Regions from separate parts of the Homo sapiens genome. Here all the other regions are reported to be linked to region 1. Evidence: microRNA targets listed by miRTarBase, many of them from high-throughput screens and not tested one by one. Region 1 holds a microRNA gene; each other region holds the end of a gene's coding sequence.
What was found. Region 1 holds the annotated microRNA hsa-miR-4282 (UAAAAUUUGCAUCCAGGA, at 1,952-1,969, shown strand). A microRNA usually pairs through its seed, bases 2 to 8, with sites in the 3' UTR of a target mRNA and lowers its output. Matches are read on the target gene's strand: a 7mer-m8 pairs with bases 2 to 8, a 7mer-A1 pairs with bases 2 to 7 and ends in A, and an 8mer does both.

Region 1 (4,108 bases):
GATTAACATATAGGGACTGCTATAAGTAAACAATCTGTCCAGTCGTATCTAGGAGAAAAATGACGGAATAGAATAATATAAAAGTAGAGGAGGGAAGATGAAGGGAATTCTGATACAAGTTGGGAATGTTACAAGAGTGAAAATACCATCCCAACACAATTGGAAAACTCTACCTAGGGGAGGAGGCACCACTAACTAATGACTGAGACAAACCATTAGGTTCAACCATATGAAATTGCCATTATTGTAGGTCAGAAACAACTGAATTTCAGCAAGTTTACATGGTCTAACCTTACATGTTATACCTGTATTGTGCTTACATTTTGCTATGTATATATGTGTATACATTTATAAATACCCAACACAAAGTTCATGCATATCTTCTTCCAAGATTCAAAAAATCTTAAGATGAAGGAAAGCTGACAATAATATTTATTATAACACATCTCCTTTGTCTAAAGGGTTATCAGTTCAATTACTTTCAAATTTGGTTGTAAACATATATTGTGTTTGGGCATAAATGCTTCTTAATTATTAAGTAATACCTGAATTTGCCACTTTTAAAATAAATATACTTTAAAAAATGAATACACTGAAATTGAGGAGCAACCAAACAGTTCTTACAGAAGCCAAACTGTACTTAGGAAACCCAAGTTGGCTATTTTCAGCTTATTCCTCAACTCCTTAGTTTCAGGTATAAAGTCATCACATACCAATTGGATGACTAGTCCAAAGGGAAGCTTAGTAAGAGATCACATTGTTTATTCTCATCCCTGAAGTCAGCCACACTTGAGAGATGAATAAACAACAGGTGCTGCCCAAGATTACAATGTAGGTTGACTTTGATGCTTCAATTATTTTTGGCCGAGATATTATATTTGTACATCTCTATGTTTGTAAATATTGCATATATGTATATATGGATAATTGTGGAAGTAAGAGCTATACACATCATTAGTTAATCTGATAAATAAACTTTAGTTAGTTTTAGGAGAATATCTCTGGATTATAAGAATAAGCCACTTCATAAAACATTTGTAAAACTTTGTAAAAACAAGTACATAAACAATATAGAAATGTATAACTTAGAAAGTCAAAGTCCCTAATAATCATTGTCTACACCTTTGCCTTCCTCTTTCAAATAATCAATATCATCAATTTGGGAGATATAATCTGAATTTCCCCCTCCTCATCACATGTTCTGTTTTTTTTTTCACTTATTTCTTTAAAAGTCTATCCTCCTTTGAGATTCTTTTCTTCACCCGTCTAGATCATAATGATATTTCTCTTCTCTACACTTTCAGTACTTTGAGTTTGCATGTTAATAATAAAATGTCTCACACGGTTCTCTAATTCAGTATTCCCCAGACTGTTTTCCATAGAACACCACTATCCCAAGAGATTTTTATAGATCTGTCTCAAGAAAAAGTTGCTCTGTCAAAAACACTTAGGGAGTTCTGGGTTCAATGACAATAACTGTATTTCTTTGTTGCAGAACTTCTGAGACACTGTGAGTGTGTGTGTGTTTGTATGTTTGTGTGTGTGTATGTAAGTTTCTATTCACATTTTATATAAATGAAAACATATCTTTGTCACATATATCAGATGTCCAATTTTGAGACTTGGTTGTGTTGGGGTCGCTAAGGAGAAGTGGCCCTGCGAATGAGGAAGAGACAGTGAGGGTCAAGAAGGAAGGTCAGAGTAAGCAGGGAAGAATCCAAAGAACATGGTATCCTAAAATCCAAAAGAGTTTTCAGAAGGAGAAAATGGGTCAGGTGCAGTGGCTTATGCCTGTAACCTCCACACGTTGGGAGGCCAAGGTATAGGGATCTCTTGAGGCCAGAAGTTTGAGACCTGCCTAGACAACATAGTGAGAACCTACTGAGACATCTTTAACTTCTTAGGTGTGAATGGTGAAGTTCCAGGGGAAGATTTTAGTATGCCACATTTCTAAAATTTGCATCCAGGAACATCATCCTATTCACCTTCTGACTGATATCTTAAGTGACCTTAATGGTTTTTAGAACCTTGTATGGAAAACTCTACATTCTTGAGAGCAGGGACTTTGTTCTTCATTCCTTTTTGAGACCCTTGTAGTGCATAGCATAGATCTGAAAACATCAAAGCACCCAACAAATATCCGTTGATTGCATCATATGGTTGAAGGAAATAAAAAGAAAAAAATGAAAAATATATTGAAAGATAACTAATATATGCCCAAACTTTTCACCATACATTTTCCTCACTGATTTATTTATCTTGAATTAAATAAAGGGATATTTTTTTGTCTTTAAGATGTACATCTTAAAATTACATAATACCATTATATTTCACTATACTGATCAAAAGTTATTGCATAGGAAGGGTGTACAGACTGATTATGAAATCCCAGTGAGAATATGAAAAATTTGCTGACTAAAATTTTTATAGTGCAAGAAATGTGTTTCTATCCTAAAGAGGGTTATAAAATGGGAGAAATAAAACCCTAAGAGTCATATCATTAAATTTATGGAAGTTCATTTCCTGTGTGTGAGGAGAGTCTAATGGAAAACTTTATAACCATGGACCTTCTCCTTTGTCACAGCTGAAGGGATCCAATGCTAAAATTCTGTTCCATGTAACAAAAAGTACAGTAGAAGAAAATATTGTATCTTGAGTATATTCCTGTCCTTCTATATCTTCCTCTGACTTCTGTAAGATATATTTTAAAAACTCAGTCCACATTCCTTAATTCCTCCAACTCCCTCCAGAAACAACAGGTCTTCAAGGTGTAATTGGGTAACTTTTATTGAAATCAGCTGTTGGTAGTCCCTGGCAACCATATGTGCCAGTTATTGAGTCACAGAGGAAGTGCTGGGTTCCTGAACACAGTCTGTATGGAGTAAATTCTCGAAGCATTTGGCCCTATCTCACAATGCCTCTCACTTTGCCCTGCTCATGATCCAGTCATGGATTTTAAATTGAACCCATGTTTCTGTTTCCATACTGAAAGTTAAGTTTTAGCATAAATATTTGAGGGTCACCACAAATTTAAGAGGATACCTTTCAAAATATGCTTTTCTTTTTTTTCTCTCTCTCTTTTTCTTTCTTTCTTTCTTTGATGGAGTTTCACTCTTGTCACCGAGGCTGAAGTGCAGTGTGGTGATCTTGCCTCACTGCAACCTCTGCCTCCCGGGTTCAAGAGATTCTCCTTCCTCAGCCTCCTGAGTAGCTGGGATTACAGGCGCCTGCCACCATGCCCAACTATTTTTTTTTTTTTTGTTATTTTTAATAGAGACAGGGTTTCACCATGTTGGCCAGGCTAGTTTCGAACTCCTAACTTCAGGTGATCCGCCCGCCTTGGCCTCCCAAAGTTCTGGGATTACAGGCATGAGCCACCACACCTAGCCTGCTTTTCTTTTTATAATACAAAAACAAAATAACATTTTTGATTCGAACCTTATTGGGAATATTTGACTGCTAGTCATAAACTGCCTAAACTAATAAATAACAAAGTAATATATTTATGAGACAGCAACAAGAAATTCTTCTTGGGCTCAGGATGATATCTCAAAGTAATAAAAATATATGCTATCTTCTGTATTTGGCTTCAGGACCTGATGGTGGTGGATGGTGGGAAGTGCTCTAACTCGACTGGAGGCAGCACCTCCCCTTCTGCTCCAGCACACGGCCTTGGGCAGGCACTTTAACCTCCCTGGGACTGGCATCTCTCTTCTGTAAAACCAAGAGGTTGATCTGCATAAACACAAATAGCACTTCCACATATGTCCAAATCCATGACAATATTATTCCAGGTAAAAATGTGCAGCAGATCCTCTTACACATAGACAAAGTGGGCCATTCTGTTTTACAAATAGCACTTTTCAAGCAATGTGACTTTTTTGTGCTTAACCCAGTAATGAGCATTTCCTAAAAATTTAAATGCTAATAAGATAAACCTTAATAGCAACTTGATTGTGGAAGTTTGGATTTAAAAATAAAATAGATAATAACTCTGGAGATGACAGGACCACTTTTCTCCTCTAAATTGTTTGATGCTGTGGGTCAGTGGATAGGAAAACAATAAGAACATCTGCTCAGATGACACACTTCACATTCCCGATGAGGC
Region 2 (4,108 bases), not on the chromosome of region 1:
TGGGAAGGGCTTTAGTCAGAGCTCCAAACTGCACATCCACCAGCGAGTCCACACTGGAGAGAAGCCCTATGAGTGTGAGGAGTGTGGTATGAGCTTCAGTCAGCGCTCAAACCTGCACATCCACCAGCGAGTACACACAGGAGAGAGGCCCTACAAGTGTGGTGAGTGTGGGAAGGGCTTCAGTCAGAGCTCGAACCTTCACATTCACCGGTGCATCCACACAGGAGAGAAGCCTTACCAATGCTATGAGTGTGGGAAGGGTTTCAGCCAGAGCTCGGATCTTCGCATCCATCTCAGAGTCCACACTGGAGAGAAGCCCTATCACTGTGGCAAGTGTGGGAAGGGATTTAGCCAGAGTTCCAAACTCCTCATCCACCAGAGAGTACATACTGGAGAGAAGCCCTATGAGTGCAGCAAGTGTGGGAAGGGCTTCAGCCAGAGCTCCAACCTTCACATCCACCAGCGGGTTCACAAGAAAGATCCTCGCTAACTGACATTAGCCCATTCAGGTCTTCACAGCGCTCATACTGTAAAAACTGTTAAATATTTAGTATCACTCTTACTTTATATTCTACAAAGGAGAGAGATGTAAGGGTTATTTAGATATGTTCCCTCACTGAAAAATCACTCATTCAAAATATTTAAGTATCAAGCACTTTGTTATGCTGTACAATGAATGGATTGTTCTTGTTTCTCAGATGGGTAGAGTAAAAGTGTCTGTACTTTACAATTCAACTACATGTTCTACCCAGCATTTTAACGGCAAGAACTTTATATTTATTCTCAAGCAGGGCATGTTTCCCTTTGTTCACATTCTCTGAGAAATTGAAACTCTGGTTTCTCTTCAAATTTTGTGCCTTGTGTTTTTCATACTTCTTTCCAGTCCTGATTAGCCCCCTCTAAACTATGATTGTACACTGCGTCCATTTTAGGCCAAGAGGGCAGTTGGAAATACAATGGACATGGAAATTATTGTGTTTATTGCAAAAAGATATAATAGTTTGTAGCCACACAACAAAAAGCTGGAAGAGAGTTACTCATGTAGTACATTCCCATATACCATTTTGATAGGAAGTTGAACAGCCCCTCCCAGGCAACTATTCAGGAACATAAGTAGTCCTTTTTGGTGAGTACAGCTAGTTTATTGGGATACTTCCAGAGTGAATGTGAGGAAGGGTCCAAAGTAACATGCCTGGCACTTTGGGAGGCTGAAGAGGGTGCATCACTTGAGCCTAGGAGTTCGTGACCAGCCTGGGCAACATGGCAAAATCTTGTCTCTATAAAAAAGTGCAAAAATTAGCTGGTGTGCTGGCACAGACCTGCAGACCCAGCTACTCAGGAGGGGTACCTGAGAGCAGGTGATAATAACAAATAGGTTCCAGAGGCAGAGCTGGAAAAATGAATACATAAGGAGCAGGGGGCAGCTTAGAGGCTGCAGAAATCATGTTGGGGCTTGATAAGCTAAAAATGGCTAGCACAGAAAGTATTCGAGAATGCACTTTTGTTAAACATGTCTCATCACATTGGACAACATTAAGATGCGAGGAAAATTTAATTTATCAAACTACAGCAATAAGGAGAATAGGAGAAAGACTATCAGCAAATGAAAATTTGAAAGATGGAAAGATAGCCAGTAGAGCAGAAGCAGGCACAGTTATGCTGCTTGCATATGGGGATAAGGAAAAGAAGGAACCAATTTGGCACCAGGCTCAGAAATGCTTAGTACCTTGGAAGATGGGAGTGAGATGTGAAGAGAAAGCAATGAAACTAATGGCCATTTGTATATGGAACATACCTCCTCATTACATAAACACACACTGCTCCCCAACTCCTGTACGTGGCTGACCAGAGGTTTAACGTCCAGCAAGAAATGGGAAGTTTCTTCTCTGCAGAAGTTGAATGGCCCCAAGGGAAAGACCTCTGTATTATGGGAATTCGGGAATCCTACAGCAAAGCTACTTTCTAGCTTAAGTACACATAAACAGAGCTTCAAAATTCATGAAATAAAAACTGGCAAAATTGAAAGAGGCACAATTTCAATTATAATTAGATAGTTAAATAAGTAATTGATAGCACAAGTCACTTAGGAGGTATAAGCCTTGAACAGCACTATCAACTAACTTGACTAATTGGCATTTGTAGAACACTCATTAGCATGATATATTAATATATTTTTATTTTTTAGGGACAGTGTGTCACTCTTTCACCCAGGCTGAAGTGCAGTGGTGCAATGAGTTAATTGCAACCTTGAATTCCTGGGTTCAATCAATCCTCCTGTCTCAGCCTCCAGAGTAGCTAGGACTATAGGCATGTGCCACCACACCCAGCTATTTTTTATTTTTGTAGGGATGGAGTCTAGCTCTGTTGCCTAGGCTGGTCTCGAACTCACAGGCTCAAGCAATCCTCCCTCCAGGACCTCCCAAAGCACTGGGATTACATATGTGAGCCACTGTGCCCAACCTGTATACATTCTTTTCAAGTGTGCCTACTATGGACTGTAATAAAACAGTCTTAAAATTTTTTAAAGAATGAAAACCATACAAGGTATATTCTCTCACCAGGACAGAATTAAGTAAGAGACCAATAACAAAGATGTCTGAACAATCTCTTAGTATTTGGAAATTAAACAACATACTCCTAAATGAGCAATAAAGAGAAAGTAAGAAAAATTTGAAAATATTTTGAACTGAATGAATATGTCAGAATTTGTGAAATGTAGCTAAAGCAGTGCTTAGAGGTGAAATCAGAGATAAAGATTTCAATTCGATAGTCTAAACTTCCACCTTACGAAATGAGAAAAAGAACAGAAATCATCCAAAGCAAGTAGAACAGGAGATGATACAGAGCTAAAAGTCACAAAAATCACAAGTGGACAAACAATAGAGAAAATTTAATGGAACCAAAACCTAACTCTTTGAAAGGGTTGAAAGGATTCCTGTATCAGGAATGAAAGAGTAAATATCACTATAGGTCCTATACACCAAGAAGGTAATACAGGAATTTTATTAGTAACTTAATTCCAATAAATTCAGCAACTTAAATGAATTGGAAAATTTTATCCTAAGGACTATAGAACCAAAGCCCACTTGAGAGAACTTGAATAGTCCTATTAAATTGAATTTTTAGCTGATAACCTTCCCCCAAAGAAAAGTCATGAGACCAACATTGCCCAGATACCAAAGCCAAAAAGGACATCATAGGAAAAACTCATAGATCAATATCTCTTAATATAGATGTAAAAATCCTTTTTAAAATACCAAGTTGAACACAGCAATCTATAAAAGGAAACACATATGGCCAAGTAGGGTTTATCCTAGAAATGCAAGCTTTAACATTCAAAAAGCAATGTTTCATATTAATATTAAAAAGAAAAACCACAATTTTTTTAATGTAGGAAAACATTTGAAAAAATTTAACACCCATTCATGATAAAACCGCTCAGTTGATTAGGAATTAAATTGAGTTTCAAGAATCTAAGAAAGAGCATCTATGGGAGAACCTACATCTGACATCGTACTTACTGGTGAAGTAAAAAGCACTTTTCTCCTAAGATTGGAAACAAGAGAAAGATGTCTAGTCACCACTTCCAGTCAACCTTGTAGTGGATGTCCTAGCCAGTACAATAAGCCAATAAAAAAGAGGCTGGGTGTGGTAGCTCATGCCTAAAATCCTGGCATTTTTGGGAGGCCAAGGTGGGAAGATTGCTTGAGCTTAGGAGTTCAAGACTAACCTGGACAATATAGTGAGACCTCATTTCTACCAAAACTTAAATAAAAATTAGCCAGGCATAGTGGCATGTGCCTGTAGTGCCACCTACTCAGGAGGCTGAACAGGAGGATCACTGGAGGCCCAGGAGATCAAGGCTGCAGGGAGCTGTGATCGCACCACTGCACTCCAGCCTGGGCGACAGAGTGAGACCCTGTCTCAAAGAAAAGGGATACAGAATGTGAAAGAAGGCATGAGACTGCTGTGACATGATTGTCTATATGGAAAAGCATAAAGTGTCTGAAAATGTTTTTAAAACTAGTAAGTATGTTTAGCAAGGTCACAGGATACAAGCTCAATATTTTTAAAAAGTTGAAAGTATGAAAACGGCATCAAAATTATG
Region 3 (4,108 bases), not on the chromosome of region 1:
GCGGTAGGATTTGCAGGTAGAACAAAACAGGTGTCTTCCTAAGAGATAATATTCTTGAGTTGTGTCCCAGGCAGTGGGGTGGACTGCAGTGTTGGGCTGTGACCAGGAGCAGGGCTCAGGCTGTGGCCCTCAGAAGGGAATTTTTCTTGAAAACAGCTTTGCTATGAGATCGGGCTGTTGACAGTTCTTGGTTGGCCCACAGCTACCCATGTCAGTTATCTCCGCTAACATTTCTAAGAATCTTTGTAGGACAATTTCTCACCTGCAAGCTCTTTCAAGTAGAACTCTTCTTTCCTTTAAGGCAATTAGCCCATTGCCTAAAGGTTTTACTGTCTTAAAGCTGGAACTGTCTTTCTGAGATCTAATTCCAAGGACTTCTCCACAGCTAAGTGAGATGCCTCACACCAGTATTAGGTGATTCTTTGTGTACAGAACAGAGCGTTTTCATCTTGTGTTTAAAGCAATTTCTTGGCTTCGGCTCCTCACCACTTTCTATACCAGTCTCCCATTCACATCCCTAGTAATGCCTATGCAAAAAAAAAAAAAAAAAAAAAGAGAAAAGAAAAAGAAAAAGCTGATGGTGAAACCTACAGGTTTAAGGGCTTAAATCTCAGACTTTGTGTTAGGAGTAACAGGAGTGTGCTGAGAGGGCAAGCAATAAAACAAGTCATACGAAAAAGCCACATTGCTCTCTCCTAAGCCCCAACCCCACTCCACTCCTGTGGCCAGTGGTCCAAACAGAAAATGACTGGAAGAAGACGAGGAGGTTAAAGGATCAGGGAACAAAGCATTATGTGAATTCACCAAGAAGATGTACAGAACGCTTGTGTTTACATTGTTTTTATGGAACTAGCAGAATAAAACTGATCTATTTTAAAAATAAAAAAATAAAAAAAAAAGAAAGAAAACAGCTTTGCTGGTCTGGGAAGGGAATCTGGGCTCAGGCCCCAAGAAGTGTCACAGCCACCACCTATGCCAGAGGACAGACCTGAGGCTGGGGTAGGACCCTGAGCATTGGAACTTGGGCCTGTTGCCAGCCTGGACTGGTCCAATTAGGAAGACCCACAGAGACAGCAAAAGAGGACAAGAAATTGGAAGCAGGAAGAAGGGAGGGGAGAGAGAGAATCTTTATCTGCTTCCCATTTCTGTTGCTTTCCTCTTCCATCTCTCTTCCCCGCCTCTTCCCATCTTAGGGGGATTCAGCTGAGACACACAGCAGCCCAACCCGTGTGTTTTAGGCTGGCCAGGAGCACAGTCTCCTTTCTTGATCCCCCTGTCTCTCCTGTTCCTCACCCAAGAAAGCCCCTTTCTAGGACTATGAAATCAGTGTGTTTTCAACCCTGATTCCCCAGGTGCACCCCCTTGGCACACCCTGACGGTTGTGCATGCATCATTCACTGAGTGCTCCCCACCCACCCACACAACGCACACACTTGGCTCCCAGGCCAAACGTGCCGGCTCGCTCTGGGCAATCGGCCTGGCCAGGTTCTCCCCCTTTCCTGCTTTACATCATTTGCCCGCTCTGTACTTTGTGTTATTTGTGACTTCTCTTGTGCAAGCCACAGCGGTCTTGTCCCTATGAATCCCATCCTCTTCCCACCGGCTTCTCAGGGAACTCAAAGGCTGATGTGGAGACACAGAAACTGGGCAGTGTGACACCATATACAGCCACACCCCACTACACAGACAGTCTCAAGTGAAAGAGGGTGCCGCACACCCTTGAGTGCAAATATACTTGCACGCACACTCAGACTCCCTGTGTTCAGGGTCTGCAGACACCCGCCTTCCTTTCCTGCAACCTCCCCCTACTCACTTGCAGCCTGCCCTCGTTTTTTGTCACCCCACCCTGGAGTTGGAGACACTAAGAGCAGGGCTGGGTGCAAACACCTGGCAAAAAAATCACAGGATGGTCACGCAAACAGGAAATCACTCAAAAGATTCCAACGGGAGGCTCTGGGGGGGCTCCTTCCTTCCGCGGTTTCCTCCTTCATCGCCCAGGCCTCCTCCCTCTGTCCCCTGACAAAAAGTCACCGAGCCCAGTTCAAATCGATTGTTTTATTGACTGCATACAGACGCGTTTAGAAAAGGGCACGGGCTCCGGGGGGCTACTCCGTCCCAGGCCCGCGCTTGTGCTGCGCTTCGCGGAGAGGGCTGATCCCGAGGACTGAAACTCCCCCCACCCCAACCCCGACGCTTTCTTTCAAAATGGAAAAAAGAACCCCGCCCCGAGTCGCCGCGCCGCGCCCCTCCCCTTCCCTCCCTCCCCGCCCATCCGCCCCCCCGCCCGCCCCCCTACACTACACGGTCACACTTCACAGGACACAGACTTTTCTCCTACAGGGCACGCTTGTCAGGGACTACACGCCGGGCAAACACGATTCCCGCCGAAGCAGGGGCGGGTGGGGCGGGGCGACGCGAGGACCGAGACGCGAGGACGGAGGGGCTCGGCTCCATCCGGATCCCGTCGCACAGTCGCACAGTCACGAGCAGGCTTTGTGCGAACTAGGGCGCGAGCCCTCCAGAGAGCCGCGGCCCGGGAGGCCACAGTCAGCTTCCTCCGCCTCCGGCGCTTTCCAGCTAGGGTCTGGGTCGGGTGGAGCCGCGGGAGCGGCGCTGTTGGGCGCACAGACCTCCGGAAAGCCCAACACACGGACAACGAAATTGGCCCGCGACCAAGTCCACAGGCTCAGCCGCCAAGGGGCGCGCGGTCCTGCGGCGCTTTAAGTTAGGAGAGAGACGACAGAAAACGCATTCCCTCCCTACCCCCCGACACACACACTCGATTTTCCCAGAGGCTGGGAAGGGGGTGTTAGCACCAGACCCGAAATGTCGCTGTCTTTGAAAACAACGAAAACAGGAAAATCTGAGCGCGGAGCTGAAAGGCGCCCCAGGCACCGGGCTGGACTCCAACTGGCCAGAAGTGGGGTGGGGGTGGGAGGACAGAAGGATTTGGTTCCCTGCCGGCAGGAGGCTTTGGAACTAAAAACTAGGGGTTGCCACGAATCCCGGCTTCTGGGAGTAGGGATTGAAAGGGAGGAGGGGCCGGGCGCGGTGCCTCACGCCTGTAATCCCAGCACTTTGAGAGGCCGAGGCAGATGGATCACCTGAGGTCAAGAGATCCAGACCATCCTGGCCAACATGGTGAAACCCCGTCTCTACTAAAAATAGAAGAAATTAGCTGGTCGTGGTGGCGCGCGCCTGTAGTCCCAGCTACTAGGCAGGCTGAGGCAGGAGAATCGCTTGAACCCGGGAGGCGGAAGATGCAGTGAGCCGAGATCGCGCCACTGCACTCCAGCCTGGCGACAGACCAAGACTCCGTCAAAAAATAAATAAATAAATAAATAAAATTAAAAAATAAAAAAAAAGGAAAGAAAGAAAGGGAGGAGGAGGGGTCGAGGTGGGACCCCACAGCACTCCACTGGCCTTGGCTGGCCCCCGAAACCACCGCGTTACCGCGAGGTTTCCAAAGTCTTCGCTCGTTTCCTCTGGCTCCAGAGCCCACGGTGGGGCGGGCTGCGGGGTGGATTTCGCAGATAATCGCGACGGGAATGGAGGGACATAGATATCGCCCACCGTCTGCGGGTGGAGTCTTGCATGGGGTAAGATAAACACTGTGCTTGGCGGGGAAGGGGATTCAGCCCGCAGGGAGAATGGCAGCCGTGGGTAGCAGGGACTGGTGAAATCGGCCCACTCCCTAATAGAAGTCCCTGGTAGTCAAGGTTGGGGAGTAGTAAGGGGGAGGAGTAGGTGAAGGTTGGGGACGGGGGACATAAGTCCTGCCAGCCCTAGACTGCTGCTCCCAGGCACCCTAGGTGGAGGTCGGGAATGGGCGGGCCGGACGGGCGGAGGTTCAGCCTGCCGTCTGCCTGTAGTTGCCATTAATCTCCTGGGCGATGTTGACCGCCTCGGCGCCCAGGGGCAGCCGATCGCTGTACTCAGAGCCCGCCTCGAACTCCTCTTGGTTGGCCTTGGACTGGGACTCCACCAGTGAGCAGGCCGCCAGGCTCTCCTCTCTCTGCAGGTCCCCACTTGGGTCTCCCTGCTCCGCGTCTTCATCAAGGCCCTCCCCCTGCACGTCCTCTGGCTCCTCGCCGCCCGCCTCGCCGCC
Region 4 (4,108 bases), not on the chromosome of region 1:
CAAAATGTTATGCAAGTGTAGAGACAGACAGTTCACTAGGTACTTTAAAATAATAGACCTTACAAAGTTTTCTAGACAGACTTCCTGTGAAGAACAAGGAGCAGGGGGAAAGGGGAAGGGGTAGAATTTACCAATCTGAATATTTCAGCAAGGGAGAATGCATGAGTTTTACTATAAAACCACACTGAACATTGCAACAATACTAAATTCCATACATATATAATAATCACTGAGCTATAAGGTTGCTGATGTATTTGTTCTTGAAAGTGAATTAGAGTTACTTTATGCAGAATCAGCTAGTTTTATGTTTCATAATGTCTTTCCCTTTTTTGAACTTTTTTTTAAGTCTAAAGTAGGGGGAACCAAGCCTGCTGGTGGTGATTTTGGAGAAGTCTTGAATTCGGCTGCAAATGCTAGTGCCACCACCACGGAGCCTCTTCCAGAAAAGACACAGGAGAGCCTGTGAGATTCCTACCTTTGTTCTGCTACCCACTGCCAGATGCTGCAAGCGAGGTCCAAGCACATCTTGTCAACATGCATTGCCATGAATTTCTACCAGATGTGCTTTTATTTAGCTTTACATATTCCTTTGACCAAATAGTTTGTGGGTTAAACAAAATGAAAATATCTTCACCTCTATTCTTGGGAAACACCCTTTAGTGTACATTTATGTTCCTTTATTTAGGAAACACCATTATAAAAACACTTATAGTAAATGGGGACATTCACTATAATGATCTAAGAAGCTACAGATTGTCATAGTTGTTTTCCTGCTTTACAAAATTGCTCCAGATCTGGAATGCCAGTTTGACCTTTGTCTTCTATAATATTTCCTTTTTTTCCCCTCTTTGAATCTCTGTATATTTGATTCTTAACTAAAATTGTTCTCTTAAATATTCTGAATCCTGGTAATTAAAAGTTTGGGTGTATTTTCTTTACCTCCAAGGAAAGAACTACTAGCTACAAAAAATATTTTGGAATAAGCATTGTTTTGGTATAAGGTACATATTTTGGTTGAAGACACCAGACTGAAGTAAACAGCTGTGCATCCAATTTATTATAGTTTTGTAAGTAACAATATGTAATCAAACTTCTAGGTGACTTGAGAGTGGAACCTCCTATATCATTATTTAGCACCGTTTGTGACAGTAACCATTTCAGTGTATTGTTTATTATACCACTTATATCAACTTATTTTTCACCAGGTTAAAATTTTAATTTCTACAAAATAACATTCTGAATCAAGCACACTGTATGTTCAGTAGGTTGAACTATGAACACTGTCATCAATGTTCAGTTCAAAAGCCTGAAAGTTTAGATCTAGAAGCTGGTAAAAATGACAATATCAATCACATTAGGGGAACCATTGTTGTCTTCACTTAATCCATTTAGCACTATTTAAAATAAGCACACCAAGTTATATGACTAATATAACTTGAAAATTTTTTATACTGAGGGGTTGGTGATAACTCTTGAGGATGTAATGCATTAATAAAAATCAACTCATCATTTTCTACTTGTTTTCAATGTGTTGGAAACTGTAAAATGATACTGTAGAACCTGTCTCCTACTTTGAAAACTGAATGTCAGGGCTGAGTGAATCAAAGTGTCTAGACATATTTGCATAGAGGCCAAGGTATTCTATTCTAATAACTGCTTACTCAACACTACCACCTTTTCCTTATACTGTATATGATTATGGCCTACAATGTTGTATTTGTTATTTATTAAATTGTGATTGTTTTATTATTGTTTATGCCAAATGTTAACTGCCAAGCTTGGAGTGACCTAAAGCATTTTTTAAAAGCATGGCTAGATTTACTTCAGTATAAATTATCTTATGAAAACCAAATTTTAAAAGCCACAGGTGTTGATTGTTATAAAATAACATGCTGCCATTCTTGATTGCTAGAGTTTTTGTTAGTACTTTGGATGCAATTAAAACTATGTGCTATCACATGTGAAAAGCTTAATAAATTCCATCTATCAGTAGTATAGGTCTCAATATTTATTATGAGACCAGTGGTCTGGAAACAGCTTGTTGTACCGAATCAACTGGAGTCTATGCTTAAAAAAAAAAAATTTTTTTTTAACCATCCTTAAATTATTGCTTAATGGTATCATATTAACATATTCTAAATAAGGGCTTTAAGGCACAGGCTGTTGAAGCATTTTCTCAGAGGAGTGGATCTGTAGAAGTCTGTCTTTCTATAGAAATATTGTGCTTACTCAAGTGTTAAATTATTTTTTCTATGAACTAGTCTACTTCTTAAAATTCAAACATATTCTTTTGATCACATTGTTTCTTGAGCATCCTGCCCTGCTACTAACTTTTCAACAAGGCAAAATGGAGTAAAGTGGCAATTTCTTTAGATGAGTGAAATACCCTCAAGTCTCTTTTCTGCCCAAAAAGGGAAAAGTGATAGAAATGGGGGTGGCAAGTGGGGTGAGTGGATGAAGGTGGGTATTGGGGGTGGCTGTGAAAGAAAATAATGGAGAATCACTTTTCTAGACATCTACCTATACTTAATCTAAGAAACAAAGTAATCTACTGTAAAGTACTCTGCCCCTTGAAAGAAGTATTAAAAAGAGTGAGGATGGATTTAGAAAAAAACATGAATTTAGAAATATTCAAAATGGTTTTTGTGGCAGATTCAATATTATGAATTCACAGATATTTAAAGAATGAGAAACATAGTAATTAGTAGAAATGCCAGAAACAGTTCCTGGTTCCTCTTGTGTTTGACACTAAGAAAATAGCAAGAGTGTGAAATCTCAGATACTTATGAAATCTCACAGATGTAAGGACTCAAGTGTAGAAGAAAATATCCCCTTCTTACAAAAAGAAATGTCAATTTATGGAGTTTGTGGGAAATAGGGCAAGAATTCTTATGCTTATGAGAGCCAAGTAGTCAGTGGAAGAGAGTAGAGCTCAAAACTGGATTATCACCTTAGCAACTTAGAATAGTTTGAAATAGAAAAAAAGTATTTAATTTGGATCTGGATCTGTTAAGATATGCACAGTCTATTTTTTGTATAGTATTGGAAAATAAAAATGCTATAATTTGGGTATGGGTTCTTTTGTATACATTACCTGCCCATTGAGGAAAGGGGCAAGTCCATTATGCAACTTCTCTCCAAACCCTTCATATTCTGGATATGATACTTAAAGAGCCATGAGCAGCTACATTCTGCCTATCAGAAGGCATTTATTAAATGACTGCTTGCTGAAGATGTGTCCAAAGAGATCCTACATTAAGGTCATTTGTCAGAATGATGTTTGTGTTTGTTTAGAGTTGGCTGACCTCCAACTCCTGGGGTCAAGGAATCCTACTGCCTTAGCTTCCCAAATAGCTAGGACTATAGGCATGCACCCGGCCATGTGTTTTATTTATAGCTCTTAAAGCCCAGATGAAGAAATCACATTTTTGCCCATAGTGAAGAAACATTTGGCCATTGATTAGTCCTTATTTTCAGTGACTGTCCTGTTTTCATTAGATTAGAGAGACCCTGTGTGGGCCACAGTTAATATAAACCATTATCACTTTTAAGTAAACCTGCACATCTTAGATTTCATAATTTCCTTATTGTTCTGACTCAAAATGAACTAAGAGCTTTTCACTTTTTGTTTGTAAGTTCTCAGAGAGTCGGGTCTGCAAGTGCTTTTGCCTGCCAGGATTTTGTACTCAAATAAATGCTATTTGGCAACTAAAATTCTTGCCAGCTCTCATGTAATTTTGATGTTACTGAGGTTGGTTGGTAGTTTATTTTATTAATTTTGTGGTTCTTCTATCATATAGAAAAAGCCAAATACAGTTTTGTTTGAATATTTGTAAATGGACGTGATCTTTCACTTTACCACTCTCCAGCATGCTTTAAAGTTTCTCCTTGGTTTCTAGAATTGATTCTCTGTTCTTATTTTCCATTTTGACTATTTTTTAGTATTAGAATTCTTCCAGCTCCTAAATGCTATTGTCTATCTGTTGTTATCTTCTACATGATCCCCTTAATGATCTTATCCATTTCTATGGGTGAAATGACTATTTTTAGAGTGATACTAATAGCTTCCCAACCGGTATCTCCAGACTTGTTGATGGTGGTGGCCCTC
Region 5 (4,000 bases), not on the chromosome of region 1:
ACCATCTACTAAGCTGGAAAGCAGTTTTCAGTTGTATGAAGACTATTATTTAAAGTCTTTTCTTGCCTAGAAAAGAAACACACAAATTTATAACTCTACAATTTTTATTTTCCATGAAAGAAGTTGATGTGTGCAGAACTTTCAGTACCCAATATTGTAATTGCACTATTTATAATCTTACCACTTGAGTTTTACTTAAGGCAATCATTGTCAATTAAAAACAAGTAGAGAAATATGTCTAATTGGGAACATGTTAAGGATGATACCAGACTTAATTAACAAGCATCACAGAAGTAATTAGACTCATTACTGAACAGTTCATTGTCTCCTGTTACATTATTAAGCCTTTTAGCAGCTTTGTGTAACATTTCATTGGATGTTTCTAATGCAGAAAATAATAGGGATTGCAAAGAGTACAATATGAAGGAAGTAAGGATTTAATCCTTCTTTTCTTGTCTTTCAGATCAAATGGGGAGCCTGCGGCCTTGTGTTGGCAGGCAATGCAGTCATTTTCCTTACAATTCAAGGGTTTTTCCTTATATTTGGAAGAGGAGATGATTTTAGCTGGGAGCAGTGGTAGCACTTTATTCTGATTACAGTGCATTGAATTTCTTAGAACTCATACTATCTGTATACATGTGCACATGCGGCATTTTACTATGAAATTTAATATGCTGGGTTTTTTAATACCTTTATATATCATGTTCACTTTAAGAAAGACTTCATAAGTAGGAGATGAGTTTTATTCTCAGCAAATAGACCTGTCAAATTTAGATTATGTTACTCAAATTATGTTACTTGTTTGGCTGTTCATGTAGTCACGGTGCTCTCAGAAAATATATTAACGCAGTCTTGTAGGCAGCTGCCACCTTATGCAGTGCATCGAAACCTTTTGCTTGGGGATGTGCTTGGAGAGGCAGATAACGCTGAAGCAGGCCTCTCATGACCCAGGAAGGCCGGGGTGGATCCCTCTTTGTGTTGTAGTCCATGCTATTAAAAGTGTGGCCCACAGACCAAGAGCCTCAACATTTCCTAGAGCCTTATTAGAAATGCAGAATCTGAAGCCCCACTCTGGACCCAGGACATTTTGATGAGATCCAAAGGAGTTGTATGCACATGAAAGTTTGAGAAGCATCATCATAGAGAAGTAAACATCACACCCAACTTCCTTATCTTTCCAGTGGCTAAACCACTTAACCTCTCTGGGTGTTACCTGCTCATTTGTTTAAAAAAAAAAAAAAAGTCTCACCTGCTTTCATGCTGAGGACAAGTTCAGATGTTCAAGCCTATAATATTTAGGCAGTTCCTCAAATTTATGAAAAGTGTTCTCAGAATTGGGAGACAGTCAAAGGGTACAAAGCCTCAGTTAGGAGGAATAAGTGTGATTTTTTTTTAAAGATCACTTGCACAGCATGCTAAATATAGGAATAATTGAATGTATATTTCAATATTGCTAAGAGAGTAAATTTCTAATGTTCTCATAAAAAAGTTAAATATTTGAGATCATATGTTAATTAGTGTAATCATTCCACCTTATATTCAAAAATCATAAAACCGTATTGTACCCTATAAAAATATACAATAATTTGTCAATATATAATCAAAATAAAAAACAAAACATACTCTCTCCCCCAAAAAAACATCTCAGTGGGGAACAGATGTATCTTTTCATCTGAAAGACAATGCTGGGGGAAGAGCTCCACTGAGATGCGGGCAGGGAGGCTGGGCTCGAGCCAGCCCCTGCGTTAGCAGGAGGGGGAGAACAGATAGGTAACTCTTTTACATTTCCTTTATGATCTGGCACTTCTCCCCAGCTCCTTCCCTCTGCCCCCCACCCCTACTCCTCAACAGTTCTGGTTTGCCCTGACTTCTCTACGGCTCTGGCTTCTTCCCGAAGAGATATAGGAGCCATGTAAGCACGCAGTGGGTGAACTGCTTAATTTCACTACGTGTTGATGTACTTGTCTTCCGTCCTGTAGGTCTTTTCTATATAACTTTATGCCACCCTTAAATGAATCATTGGGTATACCTGTCATGTTGGATCCTGTAATCACAGTTTTCCCTGCTCACCTTTTTGTCTAAGATCTATTGAGAAAGGGAAATATGGGAAGGAGAACCATTTGATCAGAATACAACCAATAGTCTTTAAGCATTGTTAAAGTATGAAACTGAAATACATTCAAAACACTTAATCCTTGAGGCTTGTGATCTGAGTAATTAGCAGGTATGATGCTGGGACTGGAAAATAGAAAGTAATAACTAAAGGGTTAATGTGCAACGTTATTTTTTGGCCTTGTTCATGATTTTATGTTTTCAGTGTCCTGTGTACATATAGAATTGTTAAAGTTGTCATTTCCAATATTTATATTAGAAAAATTATTTAGATACTTTATAATTTTAACCGGCATTTTTAATAATGACACTTGCATTTATTGTATTGTAATAAATTTCACTTTTAACTTTAAAAGTTTAACTTTAAAATTTTTTTGTGATGTTGCCTTGCCTGAAAAGATAACAAAAATGAGAGAATTTCTTGATGTTTTAAAATGGGCAGTTTTGAGCAATAATCTGTCCTAACAGAACAGTAGCAATAAGTTTTAGGATACCATCTTGAATGTCTAGTTGGTGTGCAATAGCTTTTCTTTCTAAGATGGCAATAATGATTCATTTCTACTACATTTTGCAAAAGTGTTTTTGTTGCTTATACACATTTTCAATAACCAAGGTAGCCTTCATATGTAGCCTTAAAGCATTACCTCTTGATTGTATCTTTAGATTGATATAAAGTACTTGCATATAGAGTATTTGAAGTGATAGATTATTAGATTTGCTCTATGTCTGAAAAGAGAGCTATTCTGCAGTGCCTAAATATCATTTAAACAGTAAATATTAATAGGAAATATTGCTATATCTGAATATATAATACAAAAGTTTGATCATGGTGACACAAATGTTGGACATTTTTTTCCTTATAAAAGGCTCTTTTTTTATATATTGTACAATATATTTGGAGATTCAGAGCATAGTGACTATAGTCGAAAACTGAGATTGCACTTCCAAAATTGGCCACAAGTAAATAATCTTATGAAGGGATTCTTTATCATGTTTCAAACAAGTGGGTTACAAGCAGACTTTGAGACACTTTTCCACAGAAACAATACTATGAATTGGTGATTGAGTTCCCAGGCCAAGCCTCCCTCAACAGGTTCAACTCTAATATACCTAACCTGTGATACTGAAGGTGCCTGCCTGAGTTTTGGGTCTCTGAGACAGGGTAGTGTGAGTAGTTTGGAGGAAGGACAGTGCAACTTTCCACCCCTTTTCCTAAGAACAAGGTCTTTCTCCTTTTAATTTTTCCACTCATTTTCACCTCCTAATGCCCTTGAGATCCAGGTACACTCCTGGGAGTTTTGTTCACCTCTCCCAACTGAGAACCTTCCCACTGGGCTCCATCCTCCCTCCTGAGGTTCTTCATATTCCAGAGTCACCCACCCTTCTCCTCCCATTAGTCAGTTCTCTAAGTACAGCTGATGTCATGTGGTGCTGAGAAGAAAGCAGATCACACTTCATCACAGAAAGAATGCCTTGTGATTATCTTCTCCACATCTGAAATTCCTTTTGACACCTGCATTGGGCCGACTGCCATTCCCATGACTGCTGCACCTGCGTTTTTAGAGAATGCCTCATAACCCACTGATTCTCATTCACAGAGAATGGGAGAACGGAATGAAGAAAGATTCCAGCAGCTTATAGAAGGATAGCAATATTTTGGGACAGGGAAAATCCTGTCATACCTCATCTCTTCCTCAGGAGGAGTTCTGAGCTGGTCCTGCTTTTCATAGTTGTTTCTTTTCTTCCACTTAAGAACTCATAGATTTTTCTTACTGTCCTAAGGAAGTCCTTACCTCTGAGGTATCTCCTCAATGAATACTGTTTTCAAGGCTGAAATAGTTCATTATGTTAATAACCTTCTTTATGTTCTCAGGGAAATGCTTAGGTG
Region 6 (4,108 bases), not on the chromosome of region 1:
CAGAAACTAGACAGTAGTTGCGGGGAGGGAGGGTATCACACTTTTAGCACTTGTTTGACTGTCTCCTGGTTGCAGGAGGACCAGTATGATCATTTGGATGCTGCTGACATGACAAAGGTAGAAAAAAGCACAAATGAAGCAATGGAGTGGATGAATAACAAGCTAAATCTGCAGAACAAGCAGAGTTTGACCATGGATCCAGTTGTCAAGTCAAAAGAGATTGAAGCTAAAATTAAGGTAATTTAAGACTTTTTTTTAATAGTCTTTTCTTGACAGCCTTATTATTAATAGTCCTCAAGTGACACTTAGGAGGGAACTTTATTATAGTGTTTTAGCTTCTAGGTTGAGGATTGGGTGGTGGGAGAGGGCGGATTTGGGTTTAGCATGGCTTGTAAAATTTGTTAATTTTATAAGAAACCAGTTTTCTGTCTTACCCATTCCAGGAGCTGACAAGTACTTGTAGCCCTATAATTTCAAAGCCCAAACCCAAAGTGGAACCTCCAAAAGAGGAACAAAAAAATGCAGAGCAGAATGGACCAGTGGATGGACAAGGAGACAACCCAGGCCCCCAGGCTGCTGAGCAGGGTACAGACACAGCTGTGCCTTCGGATTCAGACAAGAAGCTTCCTGAAATGGACATTGATTGATTCCAACACTTGTTTCTATTAAAACAGACTATTATAAAGCTTTAAGTTGTCAACTTTGTTCTAAATATCAACTAGCGCAAGTGAATACTGAAGATTTCTTAGTCAGTTTTTAGGGGATTTTCGGGGAGGGGAAATAGGTAATGTATGGAGCATTTTCACTTCTAAATAGTTAGATACAGAAATTAAGTGCATTGTATCTTTTTCATAATGGTACTATTTAGAAGCCCAGTTAGTCTTACTGAGCTTATGCTTCACTCCTTTATGTTTAACCATGTGTCTACAAGAATAAGTTTGTTTTGGAAAGTTGAGCTATAGCTACAGCTCTAGCTATCCAGCAGACTTTTCATTATGACTTACATGGCAGGAGCTCTAATTATGCTTTAAAAATCTGTTGTGGAGATTGCTTTAAATGCTCCCTGCCTGGTGTGGGGATGGGGTCCCCCTCTTTGTGAGGGCTGGAGCATGGCACGGCATGGATTAACACGGCAGAGGAACAAAGGTGTGCTCTGAGCTTCTTCATATTTCACCTTCACCCTCACCTGTGTTCTCTTCCCTCTCTCCCAATAAAAGGGCTCCCATTATAAATGCCATGTACTTCTCTTGGGAAAATAGACCCCCTTGCCTAGAGTAAGTTGTTAACTGAGGGCTTTAAACCTGGAGGCTCTTCCTGAAAGTATGTTCATGAATACCCCAAGCATCAAGGTCTAAATAATTTTCAGAAGATTAGAATTGGGTAGATATACTGTTGGATATAGCCATGGTAAATTTAACTGAGGAATTAAATCCTTGTTAATTTTGGTGTAAAGATTTGTATCCTGGCCTGTTTATTCAGGTGGGAGATGTTCTGTATAATTTTGAGGTATAGCTTGAACTCCTAGAACAAGAGTTAAAAGTTCTTTTTAGCTCATTCACAATCACTTGTGTGTTAAGTGTTAATATCTGTCATGAACCTGCCAATTTGTACGTGTTAAGCAGCTGACAGATGATGCAAAAAAAACTAAGATACACTGGATTGTACTGGATGAGTCTGAAATTAGTGTTAAAGAAGTGTGGTGCCTGATGTTATAACAACACCTCATTCTTAACTGTGTGGCCAATGTCAGGTATACCAAAGCATTCCTCTGACTGCTTTTTGGGGCAGTGTTGACAGGAGTGAGGCATTTTGGAAACTCCAAGGGAAGCCTGTGTTTGAGGCCAGAGTTGGTACCTGCTTTAAGAAACTGTTACAGGGCTTGTTGGTAATGTTTTGAATCTTTGTAAAAATTGATATTCTGTATAACAGAGTGCCTCTCTGTTACTTTTGGCCTATGTTGTTAGAAATAAGATGCTATCTTGCATAGTTAGAATTAAGCGTTTGTCCATCTCTAGATAACATTGAAAAGTTTGAGTGTTACAGGCTCTAAAGTGCAATGGAGAACAATTGCTTAGGAGGAGGAAGGGGAAAGTATACTTATGTTGGTGTGTAAGCATGCATGGAGGCCTCGAGGCACCACAACAAGGCCAGGTTCTTAGCACATCCTCTGTTCTCTACCTGTCATGCTTCAAGAGTTCCAGCTGGCCTGCTGTGAAGCCAGTAGCTATTTTAAAAGTGCTGGCTGCAGGATTAAGCCAACCCTTTACAACTGGCCCAGACCGTAATGGCCATTTCTTCTTAAAAAAAAAAAAATTTTTTTTTTTTTTTTTTTTTTTTTTTTTTTTTTTTTTGGTGTGTGTGTGTGTGTGTGTGGGGAAGGGTGTGGGTGCTGGGATGGGGGTGAATTTCAAGTTGAAACACGATGATGTGGTCTGCTTGCTCTCTGCTTAGACAGGCTTTAAGACCAATTGGATTTTCATGGAGGCCAGGACAGAGAGTGGTAATTGATGGCTTGTGTACAGACAAGCATTTATCCAGGTTGCGTTATCCAAACTGATTTGTTAAAGCTCCAGGTCACGTTCTTACACTAAGAAAATCATTCAGTAAACATGAGACAAGTTTAGGAAAAACTAATAAAATAAACCTGTCTTAAACTTGAATGGTTTCCTTAATTCCATAATGAAGGCTGCTGGGTGTGTGTGTGGGGGTGTGTGTGTATGTGTGTGTGTCTGTGTGTATGTGTGTGTGGGGTGGGGGCGGGGGGTGTGTTTTCAATAAAAATGTTCTCTAGGAGTAGGAACCCTCTGAGCTAAATTTCACTTAACATCCGTTGAAGACTTCCAGTCTGAAGAGTGACAGCTGAAGCACACTGCCTACTTTGTGAGAAAATGTTGCCTAATTTTTCTGTACTCAAACTCTCCAGTTGAGTCTTGGCCCAGTTCCTTTGGTGTTAGGAATCCTTGTCTTGCTCCTGTGACTGGGCCTTACTTTGAGGGTTTTGTTAGCAGAAGGCGGGGGTTATGGCATAAAGGTAAGTGCTAGGACTTACACCTGGCCAAAGAACAGCGCGGTCCAGAGTGTGCTAGAATAGTTGGCGCCACTGGATGTGTGGTGTGGCTGCGTGGAATGTGTGTTGGTGTATGTATGTGGTGGTGATGGGTGTTTAAAGGGCACTAAGCCAGTGAAAAAGACCTTAACTGGATAAGGCATGGGTCTAGACGAGGAGGGGTCAGGGGTCTTGTTCCCTGGGTCATGCCCCTTGCACAGTCCTAGTCCTCTGGCTGTAGGAGCAGCTTACCTGCCAGGGCCTACCCAGGGCCTATTGTAGCCACGTGTCTGAGAAACGTGTGTCTAGTAGGTTTGGTTTCCTCCTGAGCATGTAAGTGGTTTCTGTAGGGGAATTGTTAGATGTGGTAGAAAGAGCTGAGATAGCTGGGTGTGGTGGTGTGCACCTGTGATTCCAGATACTTGGGGGGCTGAGGCAGGAGGATCACTTGAGCCCAGGTGGTCAAAGCTGCAGTGAACTGAGATTGTGCTATTGCAACTCCAGCCTGGGTGATAAAGTGATACCCTGTCTCCTTAAAAGGTGGGGGCCTGAGAGATCAGGGTTCTGTTGTGGGGCAGTGGGAGCTGCTTTGCAGGGGCACAGGGGGCCTGGGGGTTGTTGGAGGTAGTGGGACTTAGTCCACCTTTGAGGGGACAGCCAAATGAAGGGGAAAATTGCTGGTTTTGGTACCTGCAGGAAGAGGGAAGATGTAAGCATGGTTCCAGCTGAAAACCATGCTTTAGAAGTTGGGATAGTAGTTACTCTTTGTGGAGTAGTGACAACATGATGTGAGGCTTGGTGATGCTTGTTTTTTGATCTGACTTGATAGTGTACTCATGTACACTTGATCTATTTCAATAATTTTAAGTGGCTTTAACAGAAAGGTGTGTATTTTTTTTTTTTTTTTTTGAGATGGAGTCTCGCTTTGTCACCCAGGCTGCAGTGCAGTGGCGGGATCTTGGTTTACTGCAACCTCTGCCTCCCGGGTTCAAGTGATTCTTCTGCCTCAGCCTCCCGAGTAACGGACTGGAGGCGTGCGCCACCACGCACTGCTAATTTTTG

Region 2: miRTarBase lists ZNF239 as a target of hsa-miR-4282. The part of its 3' UTR that is shown has no 7-base or 8-base seed match.
Region 3: miRTarBase lists ISLR2 as a target of hsa-miR-4282. Seed matches in the 3' UTR shown: 7mer-A1 at 3,343-3,349.
Region 4: miRTarBase lists TPD52 as a target of hsa-miR-4282. Seed matches in the 3' UTR shown: 8mer at 1,210-1,217, 7mer-m8 at 1,440-1,446, 8mer at 1,850-1,857 and 7mer-m8 at 2,080-2,086.
Region 5: miRTarBase lists LEPROT as a target of hsa-miR-4282. Seed matches in the 3' UTR shown: 7mer-A1 at 2,394-2,400 and 7mer-m8 at 2,479-2,485.
Region 6: miRTarBase lists HSPA4 as a target of hsa-miR-4282. Seed matches in the 3' UTR shown: 7mer-m8 at 2,311-2,317.

What each region holds. Positions count from the first base shown.
Region 1 is chr6:72,965,558-72,969,665 of GRCh38, reverse strand. It overlaps MIR4282 (microRNA 4282), which reads left to right and starts at 1,913; the gene lies at 1,913-1,979. All of the region lies in intron 1 of KCNQ5 (potassium voltage-gated channel subfamily Q member 5), which reads right to left. All of the region lies in intron 3 of LOC105377855 (a long non-coding RNA gene), which reads left to right.
Region 2 is chr10:43,553,085-43,557,192 of GRCh38, reverse strand. ZNF239 (zinc finger protein 239) reads left to right here. Exons shown (of 4, transcript NM_001099282.2): 4 at 1-849. The coding sequence ends at 490. Among named protein-coding and RNA genes, the nearest start is that of ZNF239, 19 kb to the left of the region's middle.
Region 3 is chr15:74,134,735-74,138,842 of GRCh38, reverse strand. It overlaps ISLR2 (immunoglobulin superfamily containing leucine rich repeat 2), which reads right to left. Exons shown (of 3, transcript NM_020851.3): 3 at 2,041-4,108. The coding sequence ends at 3,851. Among named protein-coding and RNA genes, the nearest start is that of ISLR2, 6.2 kb to the right of the region's middle. RefSeq lists an enhancer at 2,322-3,013.
Region 4 is chr8:80,034,474-80,038,581 of GRCh38, reverse strand. TPD52 (tumor protein D52) reads left to right here. Exons shown (of 8, transcript NM_001025253.3): 8 at 347-3,837. The coding sequence ends at 466. The region is part of intron 5 of TPD52-MRPS28 (TPD52-MRPS28 readthrough); the gene reads left to right. Among named protein-coding and RNA genes, the nearest start is that of MRPS28, 6.3 kb to the right of the region's middle. RefSeq lists an enhancer at 1,536-1,585.
Region 5 is chr1:65,431,340-65,435,339 of GRCh38, forward strand. It overlaps LEPROT (leptin receptor overlapping transcript), which reads left to right. Exons shown (of 4, transcript NM_017526.5): 4 at 464-4,000. The coding sequence ends at 580. The region is part of intron 2 of LEPR (leptin receptor); the gene reads left to right. Among named protein-coding and RNA genes, the nearest start is that of LEPROT, 13 kb to the left of the region's middle.
Region 6 is chr5:133,103,790-133,107,897 of GRCh38, forward strand. HSPA4 (heat shock protein family A (Hsp70) member 4) reads left to right here. Exons shown (of 19, transcript NM_002154.4): 18 at 76-237; 19 at 444-2,660. The coding sequence ends at 647. Among named protein-coding and RNA genes, the nearest start is that of HSPA4, 54 kb to the left of the region's middle.